Linked DNA regions of Homo sapiens: region 2 is linked to region 1. The links come from fine-mapping of genetic effects on gene expression. Tissue or cell type: thyroid. Region 1 holds a variant in brackets; the other region holds the start of a gene. All regions are shown on one strand. Distances are from middle to middle.

Region 1 (10,175 bases):
TCCTGAGTAGCTGGGGTTATAGGCACGCGCCAGCATGCCCAGCTAATTTTTTTGTATTTTTTGTAGAGACAGGGTTTTGTCATGTTGGCCAGGCTGGTCTCAAACTCCTGGCCTCAAGTGATCCGCCTTCCTTGGCCTCCCGAAGTGCTAGGATTGCAGGCATGAGCCACCACACTTGGCCACCACTAGTCTTAATAGAGACACACAGGATCCTTCTCATTAAATTCAGGAGTAAGACAAGATTCATCATTATTACTTGTTCTGAGAGGTTTAGTTAATGCAATAATATATGATATTGAAATAAGAATTCTAACAATTGGAACATAAGAGATTAGTATTATTTTTAGAAAATATTTTCCTATTTGGAAAACCCAAAGGAATTAACAGTGAAACCTCTTAGGAATAGTAAAGTGATTCACAAAGGTAGCCAAATAATTTAATAAAAACCAATGAGTTTCCTATATGTTAGCAATTGCCAGTTAGAAAATATAATGGAAATGGCCAGGTGTGGTGGCTCATGCCTGTAATCCCAGCACTTTGGGAGGTGGAGGTGGGTGGATTGCTGGAGCCCAGGAGTTTAAGACTAGCCTGGGCAACATGGCAAAACCCCGTCTCTGTGAAAGATACAAATATTAGCTGGGCATAGTGGTGTGCGTCTGTACTCCCAAATACTCAGGAGGCTGAGGTTGGAGGATTGCTTGAGCCTGAGAGGCCGAGGCTGTGGTGCACTGTGATCATGCCACTGCACTTCAGCCTGGGTGACAGAGTGAGACCCTGTCTCAAAAAAACAAAAAAGTAAAACATATAAAGTATCTAAGATTTTCCCATGTGAAGAAAGTCACAAAACCTTACTATGAATGAAACATTTAAGAAGACAATAAATGTAGAGACAGTTCATGTTTCTGGATAAGAAGAATGAATACTATAAAGATATAAATTCTCAAGGGATTTTATATTTTTAATACAACTCTAATGATTATTTCAATAAGATTTGTTTTTGTGGGGTGGGGACCTGACAAAAGATTCAAAAGTTGGTTTGGAAGAATAAATTGGTGAGAATGACTTAGCAAATTTTGAAATAGAACACTGATGACATAGGACTTCTTAACCAAATGTTAAAGTGTATTATACAGCAATACTAATAAAAACAGTGTGATGGCTAGGCACGATGGCTCACATCTGTAATCCCAGCATTTTGGGAGGCTAAGGTGGGCAGATCACCTGAGGTCAGGAGTTCGAGACCAGCCTGGGCAACATGGTGAAACCTCGTCTCAAATAAAAATACAAAAATAAGCCAGGTGTGGTGGCGCATGCCTGTAAGCCCAGCTACTCAGGACGCTGAGGCAGGACAATCACGTGAACCTGGGAGGCGGAGGTTGCAGTGAGCCGAGATTGTGCCACTGCACTCCAGACTGGGCGACAAAGTGAGACTCTGTCTCAAAAAACAAAAACAAAAACAAAAAACACTGTGATACTGAAGCTATACAGAAAAATGACATCCACAACTAAACTAGAAATACACTTTAGTTTTCATAAGAATATAATATTTTATGAAAATAACATATCAGTAGGGGAAAGAAGGCTTATTCAATAGATGGTTGGATGGTGGTATGATTTGCATGAGTGGCTTCCAAAATCCATCCACATTGTGGTGGTATTAAGAGGTGAGGCCTTTGGGGAGTGATTAAGTCATAAGGGCTCTGCCCTTGTGAATGGATTAGTGCCTTATAAAAGGGCTGGAGGGCTAGCATAAACCCTTTTGTCCTTCCACCTTCTGCCATGTGGGGATGCTGCTGAGAGAAGATGGAAGAAGCCCTCAGCAGACACTGAAACTGCCAGGACCTTGATCTTGGACTTCTCGCATTCAGAACTGTGAGAAATAAATATCTATTATTTACAAATTACCCAGTCTCAGATATTTTGTTATAGTAGCACTAATGAACTAAGATAGATGGCATATAGCCCAAAATAGTTAGCTACATAGATAAAAAATAAAGATTAAGCCTGAGTGCAGTGGCTCATGCCTGTAATCCCAGCACTTTGGGAGGCTGGGGCGGGTAGATCATGAGGTCAGGAGTTCAAGACCAGCCTGGCCTACATAGTGAAACCCTGTCTCTACTAAAAATATAAAAATTATCCAGGTGTGGTGGCGGGCGCCTGTAGTCCCAGCTACCTGGAAGGCTGAGGCAGGAGAATCGCTTGAACCCAGGAGGCAGAGGTTGCAGTGAGCCGAGACCATGCCATTGCACTCCAGCCTGGGTGACAGAATGAGACTGTCTCAAAAATAAAAAAAAAATAAAGATTACCCTTCAATACCTGTATACTGAAATACATTCTATTTACATTAAAGAGTATAACATATAAAAAATAAAAACATAAAAATCTAGAAAATGTGTCTTATTTACCTTCTAAGAGGGAATGACTTTCTAAATAAAAAGTAAATATAATAAGAAAAGGAAACATTAATAGATATGACTAAATATGTAAAAACAAATATATCGAGTATCATAATTATAAATTAAAAAATAGAGAAACTTCCATTTATAGTAAAAGCAGACTGCATAATTCAAACCAATTAGTTAGTCATTACTAATTATTAACTACTAGTTAACTAGTTGTTTTTTTATTAACTACCAGTTAACTAGTTGTGTGTGTGTGTGTTTTTTTGTTTTTTTTTTTAGAGTCTCACTCCGTCGCCCAGTCTGGAGTGCAGTGGCGCGATCTCGGCTCACTGCAACCTCTGCCTCCTGGGTTCAAGCGATTCTCCTGCCTCAGCCTCCCAAGTAGCTGGGACTACAGGCGCGTGCCACCACGCCCGGCTAATTTTTTTGTATTTTTAGTAGAGATGGGGTTTCACCAGGATGGTCTCGATCTCCTGACCTAGTGATTCGCCTGCCTTGGCCTCCCAAAGTGCTGGGATTACAGGCGTGAGCCATCTCGCCCGCCCGTTGTACGGTCTTAACTGTTTCAGATGTGGTGTCTCATTTCATCAACTAGGCTTTGTTTAATAATGATTTCTAGTCATTAGATAATATTAGATAATATTTTAGTGCCCATCTGTTTTAATTTCCTTTTTTTGTTTTTGGAAACCTTTAACCTACACAGGTACTGATTTGAAAATGCTAAAGTAGGCCCAGGTCTCAGTATTTTTTTTTTTTTAGACAGAGTCTCACTCTGTCGCCCAGGCTGGAGTGCAGTGGCGTGATCTCAGCTCACTGCAACCTCTGCCTCCCGGGTTCAAGCAATTCTGCCTCAGCCTCCCAAGCAACTGGGACTACAGGTGCCCGCCACCATGCCTGGCTAATTTTTGTAGTTCTAGTAGAGAAGGAGTTTCACCATGTTGGCTAGGATGGTCTCGAACTCCTGATCTCATGATCTACCTGCCTCGGCCTCCCAAGGTGCTAGGATTACAGGCGTGAGCCATCGCACTCAGCCAGGTCTCAGTATTAATAAAAGGCTGAAAATTCAGACTTATATATTATTCTCCTTTGCATTTGGTCAGCTTGAGTAAATCTCATACCACAACAATGTAAAGGTAATAAAGCTGAGGTATTAGACAAGATTATAGATCTGAATCTCTGCTAGTTCATTAGTATTATTATTCATCCCAAGAGTGGGTGGGGTGGGGAGGAATTCTAAAGGTATAGCTAGGGGAGACATTTAGAATATTTAGCAACTGGTAATAGACACTAACCAAGAATGCTGTAGAAGGATCCTTGAGGTCTGTGCTGGGTTGGGCAAACCCTCTCTTCAGTTAGGGAAATTTCTTGAATGGAACCCTGATGCCATGACAGTGAGGGCACTTGGCTGCTCAGATCCACTGCTATTTACCAAGTGGTAAGGGTGCATTTCAACATCCCAGATTCTGGTACAGCCATACTAAATACCTTTCCTGGACATTATTCCTCTATCTGATCAGGAATCCTGACTCCCAGCCCCCAACCACCCCTCACCCATCCCCCCACTGCCCTCAATCCCTTCCCCCAACCTCATGCTTTGTCGGTTTGTCTGACCTTGTCTGTTTCTGAGTAGGTTTCCCGTATCACTGTCTCGGATTCATCGATGCTTAACTCAGAGGAGCCTATGACCTTCCTTGACAAGGCAAACAGCACGGCGTCGTGAACGCTGAGGAACAGCTGGGTCTTGGTGATGCCAGCGTCAAAGAAATCATTCCTCTCAAATGCCCTGACTATGGAAGCTAAAAACCAAACCCAGAACACACACAATGTCAGATACTTGGGGAGCAGAGGACCCAGGGTGCAAAACAGCCCTCTCATAGGGTGAAGGATACTCACAGTGACACCCTGCAATGAGTATCAAAATGTTGGCGTTTTGAAAGGCATTGCATATCTGTGGGGGGAGAGAAAACCAGTATCAGAAGGCTTTATACTTGCTAGGAAAGGCCTTCTAATTAGCTAAGTTTTTGTCTTGTTTTGTTTTGGTTTTTTGTGACAGAGTCTCACTCTGTCACCCAGATGGAGTGCAGTGGCATGATCTCGGCTCACTGCAACCTCCGCCTCCCAGGTTCAAGTGATTTGTCCACCTCAGCCTCCCAAGTAGCTGAGACTACAGGTGCATACCACACGCCTGGCTAATTTTTGTATTTTTAATAGAGACAGGGTTTCACCATATTGGCCAGGCTGGTCTCAAACTCCTGACTTCGTGATCTGCCTGCCTCGACGTCCCAAAATGCTGGGATTACAGGCGTGGGCCACTGCACCCAGCCAATTAGCCGAGTTTTAAAACCCCTTTGGCCCTTCACTTGTCTGGGGGTATATGTACCTTGCATCCCAATTCAGCTCTACAAACATTTGATGAGTGGAGTTCTCTATGCCGGAAAACATCTACAGTGCTGGGAATGCAAAAGAGAATCAGACCGTGTCATGTGAGGGTGGGGAGCAGGAGGGAGAGCTGCCCATAGTCTCAAGGGGATAAACAGTATATATCAAGACAGGACGTCTGCAGGAGGAAAGCCCTAGCATAGAGACAGGCACAGGTGTGAGGCAAACACTCTGGAGAATCATCTCAAACAACCATATTTTGGCATGATGGCCTAGTGTTTGCATGAGACCCCC[A/C]CTTCCCCCTGGAGTTTACTGAGCAGAGGAAGCAAGATGTGGCTCAGAGACGCTCAAGTGATGCAGTAGGGAACGGAATTCAGAAACCCTGAGGGTCACATTCAGAGCTGCCTTGCAAAGTTGCATTTGATTTTAGTAAAACATCAGATGTTTACTATCAGATAAGTAAACATCAGCTACTGTCCTCAAGTTTGCTTCAGCCAATATATACACTGTGGGGCAATAAATCTTGAAGTTCACTTCAAAGCAAATCAATATCGACTTTAATACTTAAGACTAAGTAGACACCAACCCTGAGCACTAAGTTAAAGTGTCAAAAGAAACGAACTCTGCTTCTTTCACTACCAAGAGGAAATGAAGTCATTCTTGATCATATGGCAAATCACAAAGTCATTTGGCAAAGGGCCACAACAGACTCTAAATGACAAGTGCTGGAAAAGGAAAGTCCCATGAATTAGGAAGAAGTTTAATCTGAGTGGCTGTCTCCAATAAGAATGGACTGATGGGTAGGCTGAGCGCGGTGGCTCATGCCTGTAATCCCAGCACTTTGGGAGGCTGAGGCAAGCAGATCACGAGGTCAGAAGTTCGAGACAAGCCTGGCCAATATGGTGAAACCCCGTCTCTACTAAAAATACAAAAATTATGCGGGTGTGGTGGTGTGCGCCTGTAGTCCCAGCTACTCAGGAGACTGAGGCAGAAGAATCACTTGAACCCGGGAGGTGGAGATTGCAGTGAGCCGAGATCATGCCACTGCACTCCAGCCTGGGCGACACAGCAAGATGCTGTCTCAAAAAAAAAAAAAAAAAAAAAAAATGGACTGATGGATTTTTCTTAGGTTCCAGTTTTCAATTATAAAGTAAATAGAATGATTTCTTCCAATAAGGAGGCAGTATACACAACTACAAAGGAAATGAAGAAACCTGTATTTTTAGAGTGCAAAAGTACACCATGAATCTCTGAAGGCTGAAAGTGAAAGGCGTCTGACATTGTCTCCATGTTGGGGATGGAACAGAAAGTCATCAACATGGGCCAGGTGTGGGTGGGTGCTGCCAAGGACCAGAACATATGGTGCCTCTACAAAAAGAGGAGGAGCAAGGGAGACAATGGCACAACTATACCATGGAACAGAGAGAAAGTATGATATAAAGTCAGATACTTAAAAGTTTCAATGCTGGACAGGCCACTTATGAGCTGTGAGCCTCAGACTCTTAGGGGAAAGTATGGCCTGTCTCTCAAGGCAGTTGTGAAAATTACATGAGATAGTGTATATACATGTGCCCAGCTCAGTCTGGCACGTAGTAGACACTCAGCAACGTGGGCTGAATAAAATCTAAAGTAACAACTACAGCCCAGGACCAGGAGGGGAGAACATAGCCCAGTAGAATAAGATGGAAAAGCCCAAATAACAACAGATTTTCAAAGTATAATTGAGTCAGAAAGTGGTGTTGAAAAATAAAAGGATCTCATGGATGGGAAAGCTCTTAATCTCTTCCAAACCTCTCATTTTGTAGATTAGGAAACGGAGACCCAGTTCAATTTAGTAACTTGCCTCGGGTCAGAAGGACAGTGAGCCAAGACAGAGCATACATCCCAGACTGCAAACCAGAGTTCTTTCTGCTATGAAAAGCTTCCTTTTGCCCCAGACCAAAGAGAAGCTGGACTCACTTAAGAGGCAGTCGTATTCCCTTAGGAGTAAGAAAATATGACAAAATAGGTTCTGAGGATAAAAGAAGGAAAACCATCCAAAGGCACAAATCTCAAAAGAGGTGTGCAAATCTCAAAAGAAGCACTCAAACACCATGAGTGTTCAGGATGTTCAAACCTGAGCCATCACCAAGAGGGAGACAGAGTGCTGTAAACTGGGATAAGCTGGCTAAAAAGGAATATTATACTTATGAGGCATTAAACAATGACATCAATATGGTTAGCTGTGCACTTAAACTGTCTGTACCATATAGGAGGAAGACAAAAGAGAACTGTTAGAGAAACCCAAGAGTAGAAAAGAAGTCAGGACCCGGGGACACAGCTTTTGAAGGGAAAATCATCCTTGTCCTTTTCACCTGATGATGTGTCAGTGAGGAAGGAAGTGGGGAAGACCCTGCAGGTACTGGACAGCCAGCCCCAAGTTTGAGGTGTCATTTCATCCCAACGTCTTCAAACTGGAGTACAAGACAGCCCAGTGCCTTTTACAGTGCTGGCTCAGATCAGCTGAACTGTGGAGAATTCCTGGTGAGCTGCTTTTTTTCTGAAGCATTCAGACCTATTCCTTGAAGAGATTTGCAGCTGACTCCCAGGATGTTCTGGGAGTTACTGGGCGTGGCACAGATTGCTGTTTCAGTGAAGTTCAGAGTGTCCTGTTTTTCATTTCTTGAGAAATAATAATGTTTTATGCTTACCAAACCAACCGCAGCTCAATACATCAGAATTGGTTCATTTTAGGCTGGGCATGGTGGCTCACGCCTGTAATCCCAGAGCTTTGGTAGGCCGAGGTGCGCGGATCACTTGAGGTTAGCAGTTTGAGACCAACCTGGCCAACATGGTGAAACCCCGTCTCTACCAAAAATACAAAAATTAGCAGGGCGTAGTGACACATGCCTGTAGTTCCAGCTATTCAGGAGGCTGAGGCAGGAGAATCTCTTGAACCTGGGAGGTGGAGGTTGCAGTGAGCCAAGATTGTGCCACTGCACTCCAGCCTGGGCAACAGAGTGAGGCTCCATCTCAAAAAAGAAAAAAGAAAAAAGAATTGGTTCATTCTCTTTTTATTTTGATTGACCTTATATTGTACTGCCTTTGGTGTCCAAGGCTCTGGTGGCCTAGCAGTCTCATAGCAGCTGATCAGTGACTAACAGAATTCAATCAGGATCAGGGTGGGGTTGGGATGGTAGGAGGGGGATCAGAGCTCCTGCCAAGGCCTCCTCAGTACTTACCTGTCTTAATACGACTAACCCCCGTGAATCCACGTAGTGTACCATGGAGAAATCCAGGATGATGGTGTGGACACTGGGCAGTAGAGACGCATCTGAGTAAGGGATGAGTGATCTCCTCCCCTGGCTTTCCGCCACATCAGGCAGTCCTGGTGAGCTGTTTCTTGATGAGTTATTAGGAAGCCAAACTTCCTCCACCTCCTCATACTGTTGCCCTTGATTTTTCTGAGACACGGACGATACTGTGTATGGCACTTGGTCTTCGGATGCAGTTTGGCTTGTGTTCATGCTCTCAAAATGTGAGCAGTGAATCAGGTTAATGGAGGATGCTTCGGGATCCAGTTTATTTTCAAATCGCTCTGTGTAAAGAATCTGGGACGACAGAGTTAAGGGAGGGCTGTGGTAAGACACCAACAAGGGCCGGAAGGACTTGCAACGATGCTATTTCTTGTCTCTGCCAGCTCATGTCCCTCTCTCATGAAACTTCTCCCGAGAGTAGGTACTGTGCATTTTTTACTTGGATATCTGTCACTTCAAGCTCACAACTGAAGCCCCCACAGTCATCTTTCCTCATCTTCACCACCCACGACACCCCCCTCCCAACTTCTGATGTTCATCACTGTCCCAGTGAGCCAGACTTAAAACATCTTTTACTCCTTTTCCTCATGCTTGGGTCCTAGTTAGTCTCCAGTGCCTACTAATACTTTGTGTGAAGTATTTTTTTCCCATCAGTCCCTTGTCTCAGCACCCTCTTCCTTCATCAGTGCAACAGTCTCCTTTCAGACTTCCTTAAGACAAAAAGCACTTGAAGGCTGGGTGCAGTGGCTCATGCCTATAATTCTAGCACTTTGGAAGGTCAAAGCAGGTGGATCCCTTGAGCTCAGCAGTTTGAAACCAGCCTGGGCAACATGGCAAAAATCTGTCTCTACAAAAAATACAAAACAATAAAAAATAAATAAGAATAAAAATAGCTGGGCGTGTCAGTGAGCCTGTAGCCCCACCTACTGGGGAGGCTGAGGTGGGAGGATTGCTTGAGCCTGGGAGATGAAGGTTGCAGTGAGCCAAGATTGCACCAGTGCACACTCCAGCCTGGGTGACACAGTGAGACCCTGTCGTGCCCCCCTGCCCCCTCCCCAAAAAAAGCTGGCACACGCCTATTGTCCCAGGTACTCAGGAGGCTGAGGTGAGAGGATCGCTTGAAGCTGGGAGGTTGAGGCTGCAGTGAGCTGTGACCACACCACCACACTCCAGATTGAGCAACAGAGCAAGACCTTATGTCCAAAAAAAAAAAAAAAAAAAAAATTACATGAGCAAGGCTGTCTTTACCACTGCTGTCAACCTCCTAAAGGCCCAGACTGCCTGCTATAGCTTAAGGACAGTAACAAGGACCAGGAACACAATGATGTGCAGGATGCAAATGTGGACTCTGCATTTACAGGAACCAGACTCTACCTGGCAGTGTGCACACGTTCATTGAAGGGATAAGTAAGGCCAGGCATGGTGGCTCACACCTGTAATCCCAGAACTTTGGGAGGCTGAGGTGGGTGGATCATCTGAGGTCAGGAGTTCGAGACCAGCCTGACCAACATGGCGAAATTCCATCTCTACTAAAAATACAAAGTTAGCCAGGTGTGGTGGTGCATGCCTGTAATCCCAGCTACTTAGGAGGCTGAGGCAGGAGAATCGCTTGAACCCAGAAGGCAGAAGTTGCAGGGAGTTGAAATTGTGCCATTGCACTCCAGCCTGGGCAATAAGAGCAAAACTCCATCTCAAAAGAAAAAAAAAAAAACAAAAGCTGGGGGTGTGCCTCACGCCTGTAATCCTAGCACTGTGGGAGGCCGAGACAGGCAGATCACCTGAGGTTGGGAGTTCAAGACCAGCCTGACCAACATGGAGAAACCACGTCTCTACTAAAAATACAAAATTAGCCAGACAGGGTGGTAAATGCCTGTAATCTCAGCTACTCGGGAGGCTGAGGCAGGAAAATTGCTTGAACCCAGGAAGCAGAGTTTGTGGTGAGCCAAGGTCGCACCATCCCACTCCAGCCCCGGTAACAAGAGTGAAACTCCGTCTCAAAATAAAAAGGATAAGTAAGAATATATATGGATGAGAACTATAAAGCACAAGGAATAATGAGAAGAATTCCTTTGCTAGAGTGGTGTAATTCTGGGTGATG
Region 2 (8,614 bases), 150 kb before region 1:
GGGTTTCACCATGTTGGTCAGGCTGGTCTTGAACTCCTGACCTCAAGTGATCCACCTGCCTCAGTCTCCCAAAGTGCTGGGATTACAGGCATGAGCTACCATGCCCAGCAGGGAGCAGAGTTTTTGAAGATAACTTGGTGGGTGGGGGGAAGCCAGTGAGCCAGGGGTGATGATTGGTCAGAGATGAAATCATAGGGACTCAGAGCTGTCTTCGTGCACCCAGTCAATTACTGGGTGAGGGCCACAAGATCAGATGAGCCAGTTTATTGATCTGGGTGGGGCCAGCTGATCCATCAAGTGCAGGGTCAGCAAAATATCTCAAGCACTGATCTTAGGAGTAGTTTAGGGAGGATCAGGATCTTGTAGCCTCCAGCTGCGTGACTCCTAAACCATAATTTCTAATCTTGTGGCTAATGTTAGTCCTACAAAGGCAATCTAGTCCCCAGGCAAGAATGAAGTCAGCTTTGGGAAAGGGCTGTTACTGTCTTTGTTTAAACTATAAACTAAGTTTCTCCCAAAGTTAGTTCAGCTTACGCCTAGGAATGAACAAGGACAGCTTGGAGGTTAGAAACAAGATGGAGTCACTTAAGTTAGATCTCTTTCACTGTCTCAGTCATAATTTTGCAAAGGTGGTTTCAGAATGAGGAGAAAACAAAGAAAATGACCCCCTTTTGAGCACTCCGTAGCTTTTATGGCACCTCTACCTGACAAAGTTTATGTAAAATGGAAATAACGTGGTCTTTGTGCACATTTACATTAAGGAAAAAGAGCCCTAAGGTTGACCTGCAAACTATAGAATTCCTAAGTCATCTTTTTCTCTATTTTTCTTTTCTGCCTGCTCTAAATCTTCCTTCCTTCCTTCCTTCCCTCCTTCCTTCCTTCCTTCCTCCCTCCCTTCCTTTCGATGGAGTCTCACTCTGTTGCCCAGCCTGGAGTGCAATGGCACAATCTCATCTCACTGCAACTTCTGCCTCCCGGGTTCAAGTCATTCTCCTGCCTCAGCCTCCTGAGTAGCTGGGATTATAGGTGCCTGCCACCACACCCAGCTAATTTTTTGTATTTTTAGTAGAGATGGGGTTTCACCATGTTGGCCAGTCTGGTCTGGAACTCCTGACCTCGTGATCCGCCCACTTTGGCCTCCCACAGTGCTGGGATTACAGGCGTGAGCCACCGCGCCCGGCAATCTGCTGTTATTTTTCTATTAAGAGAAAAACCACTGTTTAGATCCAACAAGTTCTTTTTGCAAGCCAGGTGAATTTGTATTTATTTCATGGCTAAAAGTTCTGAAGTAAAAGCTACAAGGTGTGTGTGTGTGTGTGTGTGTTTAAAAGGCCTTTATAATTTCCATACTTTTATGTTTAATTGGCAATTAAATCTGTTTTAATTTCCCTCTAGAACACCAGACTTTTCTTGGCGCACCTTATAATGTAAATTTTGCTGTTTGACTTTCATCTGAACTGTTTCCTTTAATATGCAAATTTAAGGCTATTTAGCTGTCAACTGCCTAGGGTTGTGAAAGAGGTTATCAAGAATTTGATAACTCTTGAGGTCAGGTGTTTGAGACCTTCCTGGCCAACCTGGTGAAACCCCGTCTCTACTAAAAATAGAAAAATTAACTGAGGATGGTGGCAGGCACCTGTAATCCCAGCTACTCGGGAGGCTGAAGCAGAAGAATTGTTTCAATTTGGGAGGCAGAGGTTGCAGTGAGCCAAGATTGCACCACTGCACTCCGGCCTAGGTGACAGAGCGAGACTCCATCTCAAAAACAAACAAAAAGAATCTGAAAGATTAAAATAGGAAAAAAAAAGGTTTTTATAAATCTGTAAGATGTACTTCTATAGGCATGCCTGATATGTCTATGTATTTATGGGTGGTGTGCACAGTGTTTCACTACTGAAAATAAATAAAAGAGCTCTAATTGGCTTAAGAAAATAAAAGCACTTGAACACTTTATCAGGAAAAAAGACTAGTCAAATGCTGTTTCAAGTTTATGTAATGTAAGTAAAATCTTTAATACATAAGCTAGCTTCAAAATTATTATTAATGTTGGGATTACAGGTGTGAGCCAGCCACTGCACCCAGCCACTTTTTTACTATTAAAAACAACCTGAGCCAGGTGCGGTGGCTCACGCCTGTAATCCCAACACTTTGGGAGGCCGAGGCGGGCAGATAACTTGAGGTCAGGAGTTTGAGACCAGCCTGACTAACATAATGAAACCCCATCTCTACTAAAAATACAAAATTAGCCAGGCATGGTGGCACATGCCTGTAATCCCAGTTACTTGGGAGGCTGAGGCAGGAGAATCGCTTGAACCTGGGAGGCGGAGGTTGCAGTGAGCCGAGACTGTGCCATTGCACTCAAGCCTGGGCATCAAGAGCGAATCTTCGTCTCAATAAAACGAAACAAAACAAAACAAAATTAAACAAAACAACCTTACTGGCCGGGCACAGCTGTAATCCCAGCACTTTGGGAGGCCAAGGCGGGCGGATCACTAGGTCAGGAGTTCGAGACCAGCCTGGCCAACATAGTGAAACCCTGTCTGTATAAAAATACAAAAATTAGCTGAGTGTGGTGGCTCACGGCTGTAGTCCCAGCTACTTGGGAGGCTGAGGCAGGAGAATCACTTGAATCCGGGAGGTGGGTGGAGGTTGCAGTGAGCCGAGATTGCGCCACTGCACTCCAGCTTGGGCAACAGAGTGAGACTTCGTCTCAAAAAAAATAAATAAAGTGAAAAAGTGAAGGGCCAGGCTCAGTGGCTCAAGCCTGTAATCCCAGCACTTTGGGAGGCCGAGGCAGGTGGATCACTTTAGGTCAGGAGTTCGAGACCAGCCTGGCCAACATGGTGAAACCCCGCCTCTACTAAAAATACAAAAATTAGCTGGGTATGGTGGCTCATGCCTGTACTCTCAGCTACTTGGGAAGTTGAGACAGGAGAATCGCTTGAACCCGGGAGGTGGAGGTTGTAGTGAACTGAGATTGAGCCACTGTACTCCAGCCTGGGTGACAGAGCAAAACTCTGTCTAAAAAAAAAAAAAAAAAAAATGTGAAACTGACAAAACATACCAAAGGGAAAAAAAGTAATAGGAGAAAATATTAACATTATAATGCTAAGTGAAAAAAATGTACATACGGCCGGGCACGGTGGCTCATGCCTGTAATCCAGCACTTTGGGAGGCCGAGGCAGGTGGATCACCTGAGGTTGGGAGTTCGAGACCAGCCTGACCAACATGGAGAAACCCTGTCTCTACTAAAAATACAAAGTTAGCTGGGTGTGGCGGCCATGCCTGTAATCCCAGCTACTCAGGAGGCTGAGGCAGGAGAATCAGTTGAACCAGGAAGGTGGAGGTTGCCGTGAGCCAAGTTCGCGCCACTGCACTCCAGTCTGGGCAACAAGAGCAAAACTCTGTCTCAAAGAACAAAAAACAAAACAAAACAAAAAACTAGCTGGGCATGGCAGTGCATGCCTGTAATCCCAGCTACTTGGGAGGCTGAGACAGGAGGATCGCTTGAACCAGGGAGGCGGAGGTTGCTGTGAGCCAAGATCATGCCATTGCACTCCAGCTTGGGCAACAAGAGTGAAACTCTGTCTCAAGAAAAGTAAAATAAAAATAAAATAAAATAAAATAAAATAAAATTGTACATACATCATCCAATTGTGTAAAGGAGTATGTTCAGAAGGGGGAAACTGCAGAGATTAACAATGGTAATAATAATAATCACCAACATTTTTGAGTACTTTCTCTTTTTTTGTTAAAGCCCAGACTGGAGTGCAGTGGTGTGATCATGGTTCACTGCAGCCTCGACCTCCTGGGCTCCAGTGATTCTCCCACCTCAACCTCCCAAGTAGCTGCGACTACAGGCAAGCACCACCATGCCTGGCTATGCCTGGCTAAGTTGTGTATTTTTTGTAGAGACGGGAGTCTTGCTATGTTGCCCAGGCTAGTCTAGAATTCCTGAGCTCAAGTGATCGGACTGCCTGGCCTCCCAAAGTGCTGGGATTAGAGACCACTAATGTACCTTTGAGCACTTTAAAAAAAAAATTATTATTATTATTTTTTGAAATGGAGTTTTGCTCTTGTTGCCCAGGCTGGAGTGCAATGGTGCGATCTCAGCTCACTGCCACCTCTGCTTCCCGGGGTTCAAGCAATTCTCCTGTCTCAGCCTCCTGAGTAGCTGGGAATACAGGCACCCGCCACTACGCCCGGCGTAAGTGCATTTCCTGCATTTAATAGATGGCGAAACTGAGGCTCCGGAAGGAAGGTTAAGTCCATGGATGGTTACTTAGTAAGTAGCTCATTCAAATCCAGGCCTGTTGAACCCCAAAGTCCATGTTTTTAAGATTGTCTTGTCTTTCCTTAGCTCCGGACGTTGGTGTTATTATTATTATTATTTTTTTTTTTTTGAGACGGAGTCTTGCTCTGTCACCCAGGCTGGAGTGCAGTGGCGCGATCTCGGCTCACTGCAAGCTCCGCCTCCCGAGTTCACACCATTCTTCTGCCTCAGCCTCCCCAGCAGCTGGGACAACAGGCGCGTGCTGCCACGCCCGGCTAATTTTTTTGTATTTTTAGTAGAGACGGGGTTTCACTGTGTTAGCCAGGATGGTCTCGATCTCCTGACCTCATGATCCGCCTGCCTTGGCCTTCCAAAGTGCTGGGATTACAGGCGTAAGCCCCACGCCCAGTGGAATTTTCCTAGTTCTTTACACTAGCCATGTATTTACCTATAAAATCAGGAGAAATATGTATATATATAATATATTAAAACATATATATATTTAAATGGGGAAATATGTAACAAACAAATAGAAACAAGGGGAGAAAGGCATTGTATTTGACAAAACACATATGTTCAGGTCTGAGAAGGCTCATAAAGAATGTTGTCTGCTATACTTTGTAGTTGCTTCTGTTATCACACAATCAGTCTGCATATACAGGCGTTTTATATATATATTTATATAGACTACATATATACGTATATTATATATGTAAATATTTCACTGTCTTTGAGGACGGGGGCCCTGTCTTTTTTATCTGTGGTTTTGCTTAGATGTCCTCCAACATAATCTTAACACATAGTATGCTTTTAGAAATCGTTGACTGAATGCTAAGGACGAAAAACCGGTGACCAGAAGGCAACCAGGAAAGGCTTTGCTGACCTCCGGAGTGGTGGAGTTGGAGGTTCTGGGAAGGCGACTAGGGAGCCAGGCAGGGGCGGGGTGGGATGGGATGTGGACAGCGCTTTTGCGGGGGGAAAGCGTTTTTGCTGCTGGAATTGAGCAGTAGGAATGTGTCAGTCACATCCCCACCTTCCCAATTCTTGTCATCTCGGTTCAGGAAGGTGAACGGTGTTCCGATTCCCCGCGGCGGGGGCCTGTAGTGGGAGCTCTGCCCCTTCCCCGCCTCTGCTGCAGGCCCCGCCCCTCGCCCGGAACCCCGGGGCGCTGGCCGCGGTGCTGAAACGGCGCCCTCCGCGGACGGAGGAGGGGGCGGGGCTCTCGGGAGCCGTGAGCCGGGAAGAGGGAGACGGGCAGGGCGGCGCCAGCAGGCCCTGGTGGGCTTGGGAGGAGGCAGGAGACTGGAGACAGCCTCGGCTAGAGCGGACACAGGCACCTGGCAAGCTTTCCTTGACCAAATCAAGGTTGTCCTTGTCCTATTAAGCCTCTTCCCCTTGCCTTGAAGGGACCTCACCTGGTGCCCTGACCTCAGCCTCCTCCCCAAACCCCGCTGGGGAGTGACCTGCTTCTAGGCCTCCATCCACAAAGCTACGGACTTGCAGCCCACGGGACCCCAGCCCAGGGCCTGCTGCCCTCACCATGGTGAAATTGCTGCCGGCCCAGGAGGCAGCCAAGATCTACCATACCAACTATGTGCGGAACTCGCGAGCCGTGGGCGTGATGTGGGGTACCCTCACCATCTGCTTCTCCGTACTGGTCATGGCCCTCTTCATCCAGCCCTACTGGATCGGCGACAGCGTCAACACACCGCAGGCAGGCTACTTCGGCCTTTTCTCCTACTGCGTGGGTAACGTGCTGTCCTCCGAGCTCATCTGCAAGGGCGGCCCCCTAGACTTCTCCTCCATCCCCTCTAGAGCCTTCAAGACTGCCATGTTCTTTGTGGCCTTGGGCATGTTCCTCATCATTGGCTCCATCATCTGCTTCAGCCTGTTCTTCATCTGCAACACGGCCACAGTCTATAAGATCTGTGCATGGATGCAGCTGGCTGCGGGTAAGCAGAGATGGTGGGAGGGCAGGCAGGGGCCCACCCCGGGGCCACAGCTGCAGCTGCACCATCCCAGCCTCTGCCAGGGCTCTGGGCCTTAAATTTAGCTGTTCTCCTATAGCCCAGTCCTACTCAGTGCTCTGCAGAAGATTCTGAGGAGTTGAGAATCTTAAAATGGCAGAGGCAGAAAAGACCTTAGAGACCAAGCTGTCCAACCCTCTCATCCTACAGATGAGGTTCTGAGCCCAGAACCTCATCTGAGCCCAGAACCTCATCTGTAAGGGGAAGTGACTTGCCCAGGAGCACACAGTTGCCAGTCCTGATTCCCAGGCCATCACATCAGTTTTTGCAGCTGTGAGAGAGAGAAAGAAGGAAGCTTCCATTGTTGGCCATGTGGGAATAGGACTCAACCCTAGCACAAAGTAGTGACACCAGTCAAGCACATTCTAGATGCCTTCATCTCCCACCTCTGGGCTTTTGTTCTTTTTAAGAGTGCCCAGAACTCTGTCCTCATTCTCTCTCTCCCACTCCAAACTGCTCTCAGATTCTAAGGTCTCTTGCTGATTTTGGAGTGTTACTATTATGCAGGGTATGACCTTGCCTATAGAAACTTTCATCTAAATTCCCCTCTTTCATTGTGGAGTGAAAGTCTTTTTTCCTTGATCATGGGATTTTATACTTAAGGCAGCAAATGGAGTGATATTTTGTGAGGTAGAGGAAGCTATTTAGGGTCCTTTTGTTGTTGTTGTTGTTTGTTTGTTTTTTGAGACAGAGTCTCACTCTTTGGCTCAGGCTGGAGTGCAGTGGCATGATCTCAGCTGACTGCAGCCTCAACCTCCTTGGACTTAGGTGATCCTCTCACATCAGCCTCCCAAGTAGCTGGGACTCCAGGTGCGCACCACCATGTCTAGCTAATTTTTTTTGTATTTTTTGTAGAGACGGGGTTTTGTCATGTTGCCCAGGCAGGTCTTGAACTGCTGGGCTCAAGTGATTTGCCTGCCTCAGTCTCCCAAAGTGTTGGGATTTCAGATGTGATCCACAGCACCTGGCCTAGGGTCCTTTAAAACAATGTGGGGGCTGGGCACAGCGGCTCACACCTGTAATCCCAGCACTTTGGGAGAGAGCATCACTTGAGCTCAGGAGTTTGAGACTAGACTGGGCAAGATGGAAAGACCCTGTCTCTAAAAATAATAATAATAATAATAAATAAAATAAAACAAATAAAACTGTGGGGTAGGCAGCTACTTGTGCCTTGAGGCAAAACCTCCCTGGTCCTTTTTCCTGCTTCTAGCTCAGGAAGGCTTCTTGGTCCTTGTGCCAAGTGGTCTTGCTCTTCTCTGTAGCCCAGGAAGAGGGTTAAGACCTTGTGCTGCAGCCTCTGGTACCTTGGTCCCTGCACACCTCAGGGGCCACAAACTGTCCATGTCGGTGAGATGTCCAGGAGTAGTGCCGGGGACTGGAAACTAGAGTGAAACCATCTCATTGGTCAGAATGAGAAGTGCTGTCATCTTTAAGAGGGAGACTGAAACAGGCATCTGAATCCCAGACCACCAAACATGCAGATTCAAGACTGCAGAGTTGGAGGGGACCCCAGAGAGCTATATCCACCCCCCAACTATAGATGAGGAATCTGCTGCTGAGAGAAAGGACCAGACTTGGCCAAGGCTGTAGCAGATCAGCAGGCACCTGAGGACCAGGAAGAATTAAGCGGGCAACTGAGGACCAAGGAACTAGATGTATTCCTAAGATGTTTTTACTGAGCCACATATTTACATAAGTATAATGATCTATGAAATATCTTTACATATAATATCTGGAGGAGCCCCAGCACAACCCATTGAGGTGGGTATTTATCTATTTTACAAAGAAGGCCCCTAGTGGGTAACTTGTCTTTGAGCATACAAGTAGGAAGGCATGCACCTTTGATTCCAAATCTTGCACCCAGGCTACTCACATGGCTTCAGAGTTCCCAGCAAATCCCCTTGCCACCTCCCTGTTCTCTGTAGTCTCTCTGTATGATAAGAGAGAGGCCGGGGCAGGGGTGGGCAGTGGGGAGCAAGGTAGGTGGTGGCCATGTCAAGAATGATGGTGGGGGCAGGCACAGCGGCTCATGCCTGTAGTCCTAGCACTTTGGGAGGCCAAGGAGAGGGGATTGCTTGAGGCCAGAAGTTCAAGACTTCAAGACCAGCCTGGACAACATAGTGAGACCCTATCTCTATTTTATATATATATATATATAAATTAAAAATAATCATAATAAATAATATATATAAATAAAAATAATAATAAGGCCAGCTGCAGTGGCTCAGGCCTGTAATCCCAGCACTTTGGGAGGGCGAGGTGGGCAGATTGCTTGAGCTCAGGAGTTCGAGACCAGCCTGAGCAACATGGCGAA

What was found. PIP is the estimated chance that this variant, and not a neighbour inherited with it, causes the effect.
Region 2: LHFPL5 starts here. The variant in region 1 is the best candidate, but not a certain one, in a credible set for the expression of LHFPL5 in thyroid (GTEx, PIP 0.87).

Annotation. Positions count from the first base shown.
Region 1 is chr6:35,947,150-35,957,324 of GRCh38, forward strand. SLC26A8 (solute carrier family 26 member 8) reads right to left here. Exons shown (of 20, transcript NM_052961.4): 17 at 8,003-8,371; 18 at 4,296-4,350; 19 at 4,014-4,198. Among named protein-coding and RNA genes, the nearest start is that of SRPK1, 31 kb to the left of the region's middle. The variant A/C (reference allele first, on the strand shown) is at 5,076.
Region 2 is chr6:35,799,858-35,808,471 of GRCh38, forward strand. LHFPL5 (LHFPL tetraspan subfamily member 5) reads left to right here and starts at 5,495. Exons shown (of 4, transcript NM_182548.4): 1 at 5,495-6,225. The coding sequence starts at 5,814. RefSeq lists a silencer at 5,364-5,533.